Homo sapiens: one gene and its partner. The protein of the gene in region 2 interacts with the protein of the main gene of each other region in a pairwise test. Each region holds a gene or a part of one and is shown on either strand. Other genes may lie near its edges.

Region 1 (2,703 bases), on a different chromosome or scaffold from region 2:
CCTCTGTCTAGACCTAGGCACCCTACTGCAGGGAAGAACAGAGGGAAATTACTGTGTTCCTCCCTTGCATCATATTTTAAAGCGGCCAAACTAAGGTGACATTCTCAGTGGCTGAGGGAGGAGAGCTACCCCCAGGAGGTGCAGGAAGACCTACCTTCCCTCCTATTCTCTAGTCAATGAGGAGGTTTCAGGACCTCATTGCTCCCCAGACCCTGTGCCCTCTCCAAACAACCCACATTTCCTTCCCTCCCCGCTCGTTTTCCAGTTCTCCTGTTGGAAGGCTCTTGATCAGTTTAACCAGTAGTCTTGGGACCTGGGGTCTGGGACTGGCTCTCAGCTCCACCTCTAGAGAGCTCTGCAGGGGACCTTGCCCTGCAGGGTGTAAGGAGAAACCTCCTGGACTCAGCAATCTTTTTTTTTCCAAGCCTTTCTCCCGACAACTGGGATCTCTACCTATGGTCAGGCCCAGAGAGCCAACACAGAATAAGACACAGGAGAGATTTATTTTCTAGAGTGATATATATTTTTTGTTCTTTTTCTTTTTTTCTTCCAAAACAAACAATTAGAGCTCTAGGCCCCTCGCCCTCCCCACTCCCACCCAGAACCCTCCCATATAATCGACAACTGAAAACAAGCGAGACAATCACCCCCAAAGAAATCACGAAACACAAGCACAATTTCACGACAGCCACCGACAAAGCAAAAAACTTCTACTGGAATGTCCCCTTGCAGGATCAGGAGAAGCAGGAGCAAGAGTCTACAAATTGAAGGGGACTGAGAAGTAGGGGAGCAGGGGGAGGAACGGAAGCAGAGAGTAAGCTTCCATCTGATGCTTAGGTGCCATTTTGCCCCTTTCCTTTGCACGCGGGACTGTTTCCCAGAAGCGCGCGCACGCACCAGCCACGCAGATCTGCATCCAGGCCCATGAAGCAGGAGGCCAAGCCCGGCCCTGGGGCGGGTCTCCTTTGGCGCTGGGGCTAGAGCCGCCAAGCCCGGGGCTTCTCTGCGTGGGTCGAGAAGCCGACGGGATTCGGAGGAACGCGCAGAGCGTTGCGCGCTGGGGCCGTTGCTCCTCCCTGTCCCAGACCACTTGTCCCGGAAGGGAGCTTGGGAATCGATTCACAATAAATTCTCATTCGGACTCTCCTGGCCTGGCTTTCCTGTCTACAGTGGGGTTGACCTAGCGGGGAACGGAAGGTGGAGGGATTTTTCTACAAGGGGCGGCTTGACTTGCGGGTGCAAGGTGGATACGACCGAAGAGAGTTGATTTCAGAGCTAGGGAGGGTGCGGAAGAATGCAGGGCCGGTCGAGAGCAAGAGAAGCTACAGTCTGTCAAGTGGTGCACAGATGAACAGGAGGACAACATTGTCAAGGCTCTACGACCCACAGTTTGACCTTCTTTTGTTGGAAGGAGAGGGAAACATCATGCGGAATTAAACATTTCCTGCAACAAAATGTATATGTTGGTGGGAGGTGGGGAGTAGCTCCACCTAAGATAGCTTCATAAAACCACGTGCTGCCTTTTCTTGTACTTTCTAGCCCACCGGCTTGGGGGCTAGGTTTGCTCCATCTTCCCCATGGCCCTTGGCCTGAGAATAGTTGGCAACTCCATGGGAATGGTATGGCAATGCTGCAGCCTTTGGGCTGCAACACCTCACTCAGGAGTCTGCCTCTAGACATCTCCCTGGTGGGTATTTGCATTAGGGGTAGAACCCGGGCTTGCCTGACAGTCTGAGGGCTGTTTTGCCAAATTTGGTGTGCGATGGTCTGCAACTGGAGTGTCACCTCACTTGACTGAATGGTGGTTGTGAGCTCACCCCATTACTGTGTGTGGATGTCTGCTGAGCTGTGTAGAGTTGGAGTGTCCCTGGGTGACTTTTGGGTGGGTGTAGAGAAGAAACAGGCAAGCTGGAAGTGAGGGGCTAGGACTTCCCAGAAAAATTACAGGGCATACTAGGAGCTTGACTGGGGTCTCTCTTTCCTTGTGGCCCATCACATTCTTAGGAACCAACTATTTCTATCTTCTAAATCAACAAAACTTTCTCCTGACACCTAGAGAGAAGAGAGAGACAGGTAAGGGCAAAGGAAAGGAGGGAGGTTCTAGGTGCAGATAAAGGACTTGGAAGAGAGACTCCCTTCCCCATTCACTTGAATACATCCCAGACAGCACTGGCTTTGCAGTCGTCACATAACTAAGAGTGAGATGGGGAAGAGCTAGGGAGGACTGGGGGTAATCTTTAATCTTTACTCTTTGCCCTGCTCCTTATTCATTTTCTTCATTTTCATCCGCCGGTTCTGAAACCAGATTTTGACTTGTCTCTCACTCAGATTGAGGAGTCTGGCCACTTCGTGCCTACGGTCCCTGGTGAGGTACATATTGAACAGAAACTCCTTCTCTAGCTCCAGCGTCTGGTATTTGGTGTAGGGACAGCGCTTTTTCCGGGAAGAGCGAGCGTGCAGCCAGTTGGCGGAGGGGTTGGCTGAAAGAGAAGCAGCGATAGAATCAAAGAAAGGAAGGGGGTGAAGGGCCCCAGATCAAGAGGGCACTCCCTTGGTCTCCACTCCCCATCTTGCACTGGAGAAGAGGCCACCTGGGTCTTCAAGCTCCCAGGAAGGGTGTCACAGATGGGCCAGCCATTGCTATAGACACCTCCAGGTGAGAGGCTGTGTGGAAAGGATGGAGCCAAACGTGGGCCCAGGCTT
Region 2 (9,031 bases):
TATTTTGCAAGGAGAGTTGTCTTTGTGATTTAGCATATATTCATTTCTGTTCTACTGTGCTTTTTGTGTGCTTAGAATATAGTTCGATCAAAATGTGTGCAAAAACTTTTCCACTCTAAACTACATGAATATTTTCTAAAACTTAAGTCAAAAATAAGACCGCAACTGAGTTCTGGCTTTAGTGACAACGAAGGCAAAATGGATTTTAGGTGGGCAAGGACTGTCTCCTAGATGTCAGTGTCCATTCCGGAGCCACATTTTTGGCAGAAGATTTCCTTGTTCTGGGTCAGGAAGCCTTTACCCACCAAGGAGACAGAGCATTTCCCGCAGTTAAAGCATTCGCTATGCCACTGGCTGTCTTGAAAGCAGATAAACTTGGCACCTGTGAGACCTGTAAAGGAATTGGAGAAAAAGATTAATCTATCCTTTCAAGGAACAGATTGAGCATTCTAGCAGATGCTCCTCTAGGAACTGGAGATAGAGCTATGAGCAAAACAACGCAGAGGCAAATAACCCAAAAAAGAATGCTGCTTCCTGGCCCTGTGTCCATCTGGAACTATCCACTGTAGGAAAGTTACACCTATGCCACCCAACCAGATTCACAGCCAAATTCTGCCATAATCAACAGAAGAAGGCAGAATGCTAATATGCAAGTCAGGTATTTTTGGAAACAGATAAGGTTGTCTAAGCCAGATAAGACAATACAGTGTAGCATAGTGGAAAGAAGGTATAGGTTGTGAAGTCAGAGATATCTAAGTATGAATACATTTCCCCTTTTTCTCTATATGACTTTAAGTTTTCTTAGCTGCAAAATGAAGATAAAAGGAAATAAATGTATGCTTCCTAGTTTGATGTCCAATGTTGTAATGAGTTTTAGTTTTCTTCTTTCCCCTCATTTTTCTGTGCTTAGTTGTACTTAGAATATGTCCTGGGGTTATACGGTTTGGGACACTATTTCTAGAAAGCATAACCAAATAGAGGATTTTGTCTAATCATTCAGCCATCCTAACGTGATGGCCTTATTACCTTGCTCAGAGCCAGCTTCAGCTTTTGTTGAATCTGGCCAATGAAGCCACGTTATCACGTGATTGGTTTCTAAGAGCTTTGTCAGCCTCCTCCACTTTAACTTGGGCCTCACTTGAACCATACTGTTTCTTTAAAAAGTAGTCGAATTTGAATCTTCGGTGAGGGTCTGATCTCTGTCTCCTTAATGTGATTCCAGGGTATAGTTCAAGAAATTGATTTTGAGAAGTTACATTAAAGGAGAAAATGTTAGGGTTTGGGAAGAGGTTGAGATGCCCTAGGCTTGGGTCTTTATTTATTTCATGTTTTCTCCCAGTAATCTTAGTGCTATTATTTGCTTATCATCCATGGAGTGAGGCTAAAAGAGTTATGTAATTCATATGTAATTTCCAAATACTCCATTTGGAATGGTGAAGTGAAAGGGTGAATAGCATTCTATTTCAGATACATTCTTCTTAAATAGGATAATGAACTTTTGTTTCCATCCTAACAAACTTATTTGATGTCTTCATATATAATTTAGTAGTTCATACAGAAAATTGCATCAAATTTCTCTACTTTCCTTGATTAAATTTATAGCTTGCTTATCTATGATGCTATCAACATTACTTCCTAATAAATGTAAATTAATTATGTACTACTTAATTCCCTTAATGTTATTCAAAACATTAATAAGCTGACTGCAAGAGTAATGTTCTGTATATACATAAATTATGCTGTTCATAAAACTAATTATTACATGTCTAGCATTTTGATGCTCATGAGTTTTTCTTAATTTTATTAGTAAGCCTTGTACAAGTGGCAAATATAAAAGCAATTCTTCCGGAATTTTACAAATAAGAAAAAGTAGAAGCATCTGGCAACTTTAAGAAAGGGCTGAACCAACATGTGAGATGTATGTAAACTGTTCCAAAAGGAATATGTTTACTCCCTTAGGTCATGAGGGTTGTTTGCAGTAAGAAAGCCATTCATGAAGCAGGTCTTTGACACCTGTGTTATCTGGTTTCATAGGTTTCTGACAAGTCAGTAGAATAAGAGCTGGCATTTGTTGAGTGCTTGACTGTGTGCCAATTACTATTCTAAGTCCTTTATGTGTGTTACCGTATACAGCCCTCACCTTACCTTCATGGGGTCAGATATTAGCATCAGCCCCACTTTGCAGACAAAAACTGAGAAGTGAGAAGTTTAACCGCTTGCCCCAGGTCACCCAGCTAGTAAGCAGCAGATCTAAGATTTAAGCACAGGCCAGGGCCATCTGTCTTTAGAGTCTCTGCTTTTAACCTCATGAAACTAAGTTTGAGTTTATCTTTGGTAAAGAATATGATCAGGAACATCAGCATCACTCTCTGAAGAAGCCACAACATTTGAAATTCCTTTTCCTTGAAATAAACAGAGATGGAAGAAAGCCAACCTGCTCAACTGCTTGTTTTATAAATAAGGCAAATGAAGGCCCCCCACCCCTGAGGTGAGTTAGTCACCCATGGTGACACAGCAGTGGGGGCAGGGAGGACCAAGTCTTTTGCTCCTCAGTCCAGAGCACCTTTCACTGCATCAAGCAGCTTCATTTATCCCTGATAGTTTAAGAGGTTAATCCTATCTCAAAGGAGGAGAAAATATGGTAGCTATATCTGGAGTTTGTTCAAATGAAGCAGTTCAATGTGATGGGTTTTAAAAATTACACTTGGTGATTTATGGGTAGATTTCTCAGAGCTTTTTAAAAAAATAATTGATTAATCTTAATTGACAAATAAAAATTGTACATATATTATATAACATGTTTTTGTATATGTATGCATTGTGGAATGGCTAAATCAAGGCAATTAACATATCTATTACCTTATCATATGCTTTTTTGTGTGTGTGGTGAGAACATTTAAAAATCTATTCTCTTAGCAATTTTCAAGTATATAATACATAGTTGTTAACTATAGTCACTATGTTGTACAATAGATCTTGAAATTATTTCCCCTGTTTAACTGAAATTGTGTATCCTTTGACCAAGAATACCTAGCTTTTAAAGTGACATAATAATCAGATTAATGCCAATTTTCCGAAGACGTGTGACAATATCAGAATTCCCAATGGTACATCAGTTCAAATAGCTCAATTTTAAAGAAGCAGTACTTCAGGGCCTATAGATATTTAACAATTAGATGAAGAAATAGTAAAGTGAGTTGTAAGTTTTTGCAGGCATTTCAGCCTCTGGTGTCTCAATCACAAAGTTAAAAAAAAGATTAAGATAGTTATTAGACATTTCCTGTGGACTGATGAGTCTAAATTAAATATATAATATTTAGATTACTTTTGGGTAAAATTTAGATTACTTTTGGGTCAGATTATTTACTTTTGATCATCCTCATGTTTTTGTGCAGAACAACGTTGTTTTTCCATCTCAACTTTAAAAAGCTGGGCCCAGTGATTGATCTGGAACAATCTATGAAAAAAATCACTTAGGCACATGAATCTGTGATATACCAGAATTGAAACTCAAGTTCAGGGCTTGTGTAGGCTTTTTGCAGATCAGTATTAGCCATCTGGATCTCCAGAGAATTTTGAAACTTATTTTGAGTTGTTAATTTCCTTATTTTCTCATTGAAGTCCCCTTTTTTTTTCTGTCCCAATTCAAGATAAGTGTTGTTATAAAATAAATGGACTGTGATTGCAGATTTTACTTGGGAGATTCTGGAGCTCCAGGTATTGTTGGATATCTGAAAGTCCCATTTTCTAACTAAAATCAGTGGAGATCTCTTGGCTATAGGAATTGTCAAATTTGTAGAAGGCAGGAGAGCAGGGTAATTAAAAGCATGGACCCTGGAGCCGAGTGGTGTGGGATTGCTAAGGCAAGTTCTTGCAAGGGCCAGGGAGGTGATCTAGCTGAGTGATGCAGACAGGGTGCAAGGGACAGAGAGGGCATGCCCCATGCAATTGGACAGCCACGAGTTCCATATGATGGTGACCCTGCTGGGGAATGTGGAGGCAGTCTGCTCACCCAATGGCAGGCTCTTCCTCTACTTTTAGCTGCAGAGATGGATTTTACATTAGTTATTTCCAAACATGTTCAGGCCAAACATCAACAGCCTGCTTGCCAGATGTAGCCCGTGAGCCAGTGTGAGATCCTGACACAGATGGTGCTCCATATAGACAAATAAGACCATGCTGTTTTTTTCTGGTGACACCCTCCCTCCCTTTGCAAGTCAGTGAAAGCCTGCCAAGGTGGGGTTTGCTGTGAAACTTTTTCTTTTGGTTGGAAAGTGCATGAAGACTCAACTTTTATTTTGCCACATATTTGAAGATGAAGAAGGAGGAAAGGGATAAAATGATCTTTAATTCTATGGTATATGAACAACTAAAAATTGAAATATGTTCTAAGAATACTAGGAATAGAAAGTAGATATACAGTTCTGACACATTATTAAGTGATTATAAATTGCCAGAAAGAATAGCTGCTGAGTTTCTCAAGTGTCATGCTAGTTTCAGTTCCTTTATTATAGGATTAGCATTTTAAAAGTGTCTCTGAGGAAAAGATGTATTTCTTTTTACCTTGAAAACCTCTTTAACATGGATTGATTTATCATTATGTTATTTTCAAATCATGTCACATTTTTTTTTCAGTAAAATGCTATCTTGTTTTCTTTCATCTACTCATAAACACACTTCATAATTGCAAGTGAATAGAGAAAAGAGAGTAATACATTTGTTAGAAGCATCTTAAAATGAAGTTTAATTAATTACTGACCTATGCTACCTTAATTATTACAGCTTCAGATGTTCTATACAATAGTGGAATTTAATTAAAACCTTCCTAACTAAAGGATGCTTGGTCCTATTTTAGAATTAAGCAGGATTTTGATTTATTAGTACTCTTCTCCTCCCACTCAAAACTTAATGAGGCTGCAAGCAGATCTCCTCGTGAAGGCCTGCACTAACCTCTCAGCTCATCCTGTTCTCCTCCTTCCTTGAATGTTAGAGTCAGTACCATTAGGTTTAGTATGTAGTTACCTTCACAGAGTATAGTCACCCAAATTATACTCTTGTACTTTCCTTGAGGAATCCATGTAATATTTATACTCATATATATGCACCCACTTGTGTTTATCTCAAAAGGAAATATAAAGGAAAGCTTCCCATTTTTTAATTGCTTTTCCTAAATTAACTAGATAGTGTTTCATAAAGTCATAACTGTCTCATGGCATGATCATATTGAACTGAAGAACTCACCACTAATGGGTTTGGAACAGGCTACACACTTGTTGGCATAAAGATGGTTGTAGCAGTCCACGCAGAATGGATAGTCGTCTCTGGACATGAACTGTTCTTCACAGAGATCTTTCCTACAGCCACTACACAGAAAACACTCTTTATGCCATAGCTGGTCACAAAATGTTATCCCACCTGAAGTTATCACCTGCCAAAGACCACAGAAAAGGCAATGACCATGGGAGCCATTACAATTCAGATCATTTCATGATTCTTTTGAGATCCTAGTATCTCTGGGGAGAAAAGGAAGCAAAAAGAAAAAAAAAAGATCATTTCATGTCTTCTATGCCACAACTGGTGCTTTTGGCTACTCTATTTTCACCTTATGTTAGGATGTTCTTTTCCTCAAAAAGTCATTAAAAATTAATAATATGAGAAGCCAAAGGCTATAGGAATTAATTAGAAGTAGAAAGAAATGGAAATTATTGTATATTTTTCTCCTACAATGAAATAGAACAGAGGCAGGGCCATATTGGACTCAGGAAGATGGGGGAGAAAAACCACACAGGTTCTTTTTTCACTTCCTCATACTTCTCTGAATTTTCTTAATTTTGGTTTTTAAAGATCTGCCGTTAGAGCTATTTTCTATACTATGTTCTTATAACTACCTGTCTAACTTTAGGGATGCTTAAAAGAATTCTTCTTTTTCCTGAATGCTTTACACCAGGTCCAAGAATATCCAACAGCAGTAATTCTGAATGGAATTGGTAAGCACCATTATTTGCTAATAACAACTACCATTTCTTAAGTGTTTTTTCAGTCCTTACCACCGTGCTAAGGATGATCTCTTCTGAATATTCTCAACACCTCTACATACTACAGACTATTATCTTTCCCTCTTTTCAGATGAGCAACTAGTGAGGGTTACAGTCATTAAGTTACTTGCCATGGCCATAGTGAGCTAGGATTCAAACCTGCATGGTCTGATTCCACAGCCTGTGTGCATCACCATCAGTGCCATACTGAGTCAAGGTTACCTTACACAGATAAGCAGTTGAAAATCCTTGTTGAATGAATGAATAAATGCCAAAGGAAAAAATAGTTGGAAAGCAATTCCAATATTGTATCTAGCAGTGGGGTGCTGTGGGAATTAGAACTCAATGGAATAAGCCCTGGTTGTACATTGAGCCTTAAGGTGTGATGTGCAGTGTTTTGCCTGAGATGTAATTAGTTCTGCATAAGATAATATTTTCTTTCTAAACCAATTTAATCCATGAATTCTACTTTTTAAAAGGCTGAGAAATCTTTAGTTAGAATCAGATGGATAAATCTTGGGCATTTTTTCTCATGTAACTATTTTTAAGCCACATCACCTTTTGAATTCACAGCTAATGAGCTCTTAGAATTGCTGTAGATACTGGAATGTGTTTTTGTAAGTGTTTTATAATGACTGAAGCAATGGGGTATCTGAGGTGGTTCCTATAACCTTTGTATCAAATTAACTAGGTAGTAAAAACTTAGAGCCTATTTTAAGCCGCCTCGTTGTTTACGAACTCAAAAATGTTATTTGTCTGTTACATAGACTTGTGAAAAAATTATTCTAAAGGTATTTTTAATCTTATAACAAATATCTTAGAAATTAAAGATATTTGATATGAAAGATATTTTCCTAGAGGGAAAAAAGCATACTATTCTGAATAAGTAAATGGGAAGCATAATGTTGTGATGGAAGTAAAGCAATTTAAAATACCTCCTACTGACTTCCAATGCCTTACAGCAGACACAGCAGAATTCATGATTCCTTTGATTTGTTTGGTCTGATGATTAGCAGGCAATGCTTAAAAGATCTGAAACTTGAAAAATGTATTCACAGCAAAATAAAACTTGATATATACACCAAAGACTGTTTAATTAGAGAGAAGAAATTCTGGAACATCAAAAATAGTTTGCTTGTGATTATATTCCTTTTGAAGAGGTAGGAAGGTAAGATAAAGTCTAATATCTAAGCTTGGTTTTCACCACTGATTGATCTCAGGATTTAGAACAAGTTTGTTCTGTGAAAAAGTGGGGGCAATAATGATTTTGCACTCATTATGTGACAGATGAAAAATCGAAGAAGACGTTTAACTCCTTTTGAACCTTGAGGAGTTTGAATTTGAAGCACTTGTAGTTTAAAATCATTTGCTTTCTGGCAGAAAATAAATCTTAGTTTAACAAAATAAAATCTATGGATTTTAAAGCTTAAAAGTTCTAACAGCCTGGTTGTCAAGTAGTTTTTCCTTTTTTTAAGAAAATATTTGGTCTTTGGTTTGGGTTGAAAAAAATTGTTTAGATTGGATCATCTTGATCAAAAACAAATCTAGCTTTTTAGAAAAGGACTTGTGGTTTTAAAAACTAAATAAAAAATAATCTGGCATGTCATAATCTGTCTACTACCCAATATAAATATTTTGTAAATTTTTGATGACTTCAAATCATATCCTAAATATAGTTACAGGCTCCAATAACCTGGGAAACATCAGCACTTGGCCCAGACAGTGCTCAGCATGGATGTACTAAAGAAGTTTCACTCTTGAATTGTTATAGCATTGAAAGAGTCTTCATTATTGTGTCTGATAAATGATTTTAGGATAATTCTCACAAATATCATTACTGTTTTAGTCTGTCTTTAAGAAATGCAGCCTAAAATTGGCCAACTCAGTTGTCTCTCAAAACAGTGAGATAAACCTATTCATTTTATTTCCAGCAAGATTTTATTTTCTTTAGTTTTTAAGTTTTGTATATTTTTTAGAGATAGGATCTCATTGTCACCCAGGCTGGAGTACAGTGGCTCAATCATAGCTCACTGCAGCCTTGAATTTCTGGGCCCAAGTGATCCTCCTGCCTCAGCCACCCAAGTAGCTGGGACTACAGGCACGTGTCACCATACTTGGCTAATTTTTAAACTTTTTTTTTTTTTTATACAGACAGGGTGTCACTATGTTGCCCAGGCTGGTCTTGAACTCCTGGCCTCAGGCAATCTTCCCACCTTGGCTTTCCAAAGTGTTGGGATTACAGACGTGAGCCACCATGCCCAGCTCCAGCATGTTTTTAAATGCCGTCATTGACCCTGGTAATTCTTTGGAGCTTCATATGTCATATGGCTTGATTGCTGCTTGTAAAGTCACCTTCTAAGCCAGTGTTTTGGTAGAGTAATGAAGGTCTCAGTCATAAGATTATTTTATGTCATGTGATCAATTGTAATTCTCAGCCATCAACATAGTGTAATTTAATAATGATAACTTAGCATAGTGTATTGCTGCCTCTTTAAATGCAGTAGTGGTATTGGTTATGTATGTTAAACAGTTAACTGCGTGTGTGTGTGTGTGTGTGTATGTGCATGTGTGTTCACATATGTGTGCATAGAAAGTGGTAGTGTGACTTCCAGCTGTCCAGATATACAAATGGGCTTAAGAGTTCTGCCAAAGTAACCCACAGATAAAAAATACTTTGAAACCACTATACTAATCCAATGTATTTTCATGATTCAGCTTTCTCATGACAATTTATGGTGTCATTTTAAACTTATGATGCCTCGCAGGTCAAGGATTTCTTTGAGAACCTCCATATATATTTTATGGAATGCAGACAGGCTTCATCAAGGTGTTAGAGCTACTTTTTCACATAAAAGCTTAGAGGATAAAAAAAGAATTGGATGAAGTTTACTTCAAAAATATTACTTTTTTTTTCTCTTAGAAAATGTTTTTTTTGAGTGGGAAGCCAAGTCAGAAGGCCCTACATGATCCTGGAACTGGAGTGAAGGAACTTGCTG

The links. The genes of interacting proteins can lie anywhere in the genome.
Region 1: the proteins of FHL5 (region 2) and HOXB9 interact in binary tests that used the Homo sapiens proteins (3 or more experiments, as listed by UniProt).

Annotation. Positions count from the first base shown.
Region 1 is NC_000017.11:48,620,656-48,623,358, forward strand, and holds the end of HOXB9 (homeobox protein Hox-B9), read right to left. Parts: intron 2,481-2,703; coding exon 2,245-2,480; 3' UTR 501-2,244; downstream 1-500. UniProt on the Homo sapiens protein: Sequence-specific transcription factor which is part of a developmental regulatory system that provides cells with specific positional identities on the anterior-posterior axis.
Region 2 is NC_000006.12:96,606,969-96,615,999, reverse strand, and holds part of FHL5 (four and a half LIM domains protein 5), read right to left. Parts: intron 5,429-9,031; coding exon 5,242-5,428; intron 392-5,241; coding exon 228-391; 3' UTR 1-227. UniProt on the Homo sapiens protein: May be involved in the regulation of spermatogenesis. Stimulates CREM transcriptional activity in a phosphorylation-independent manner.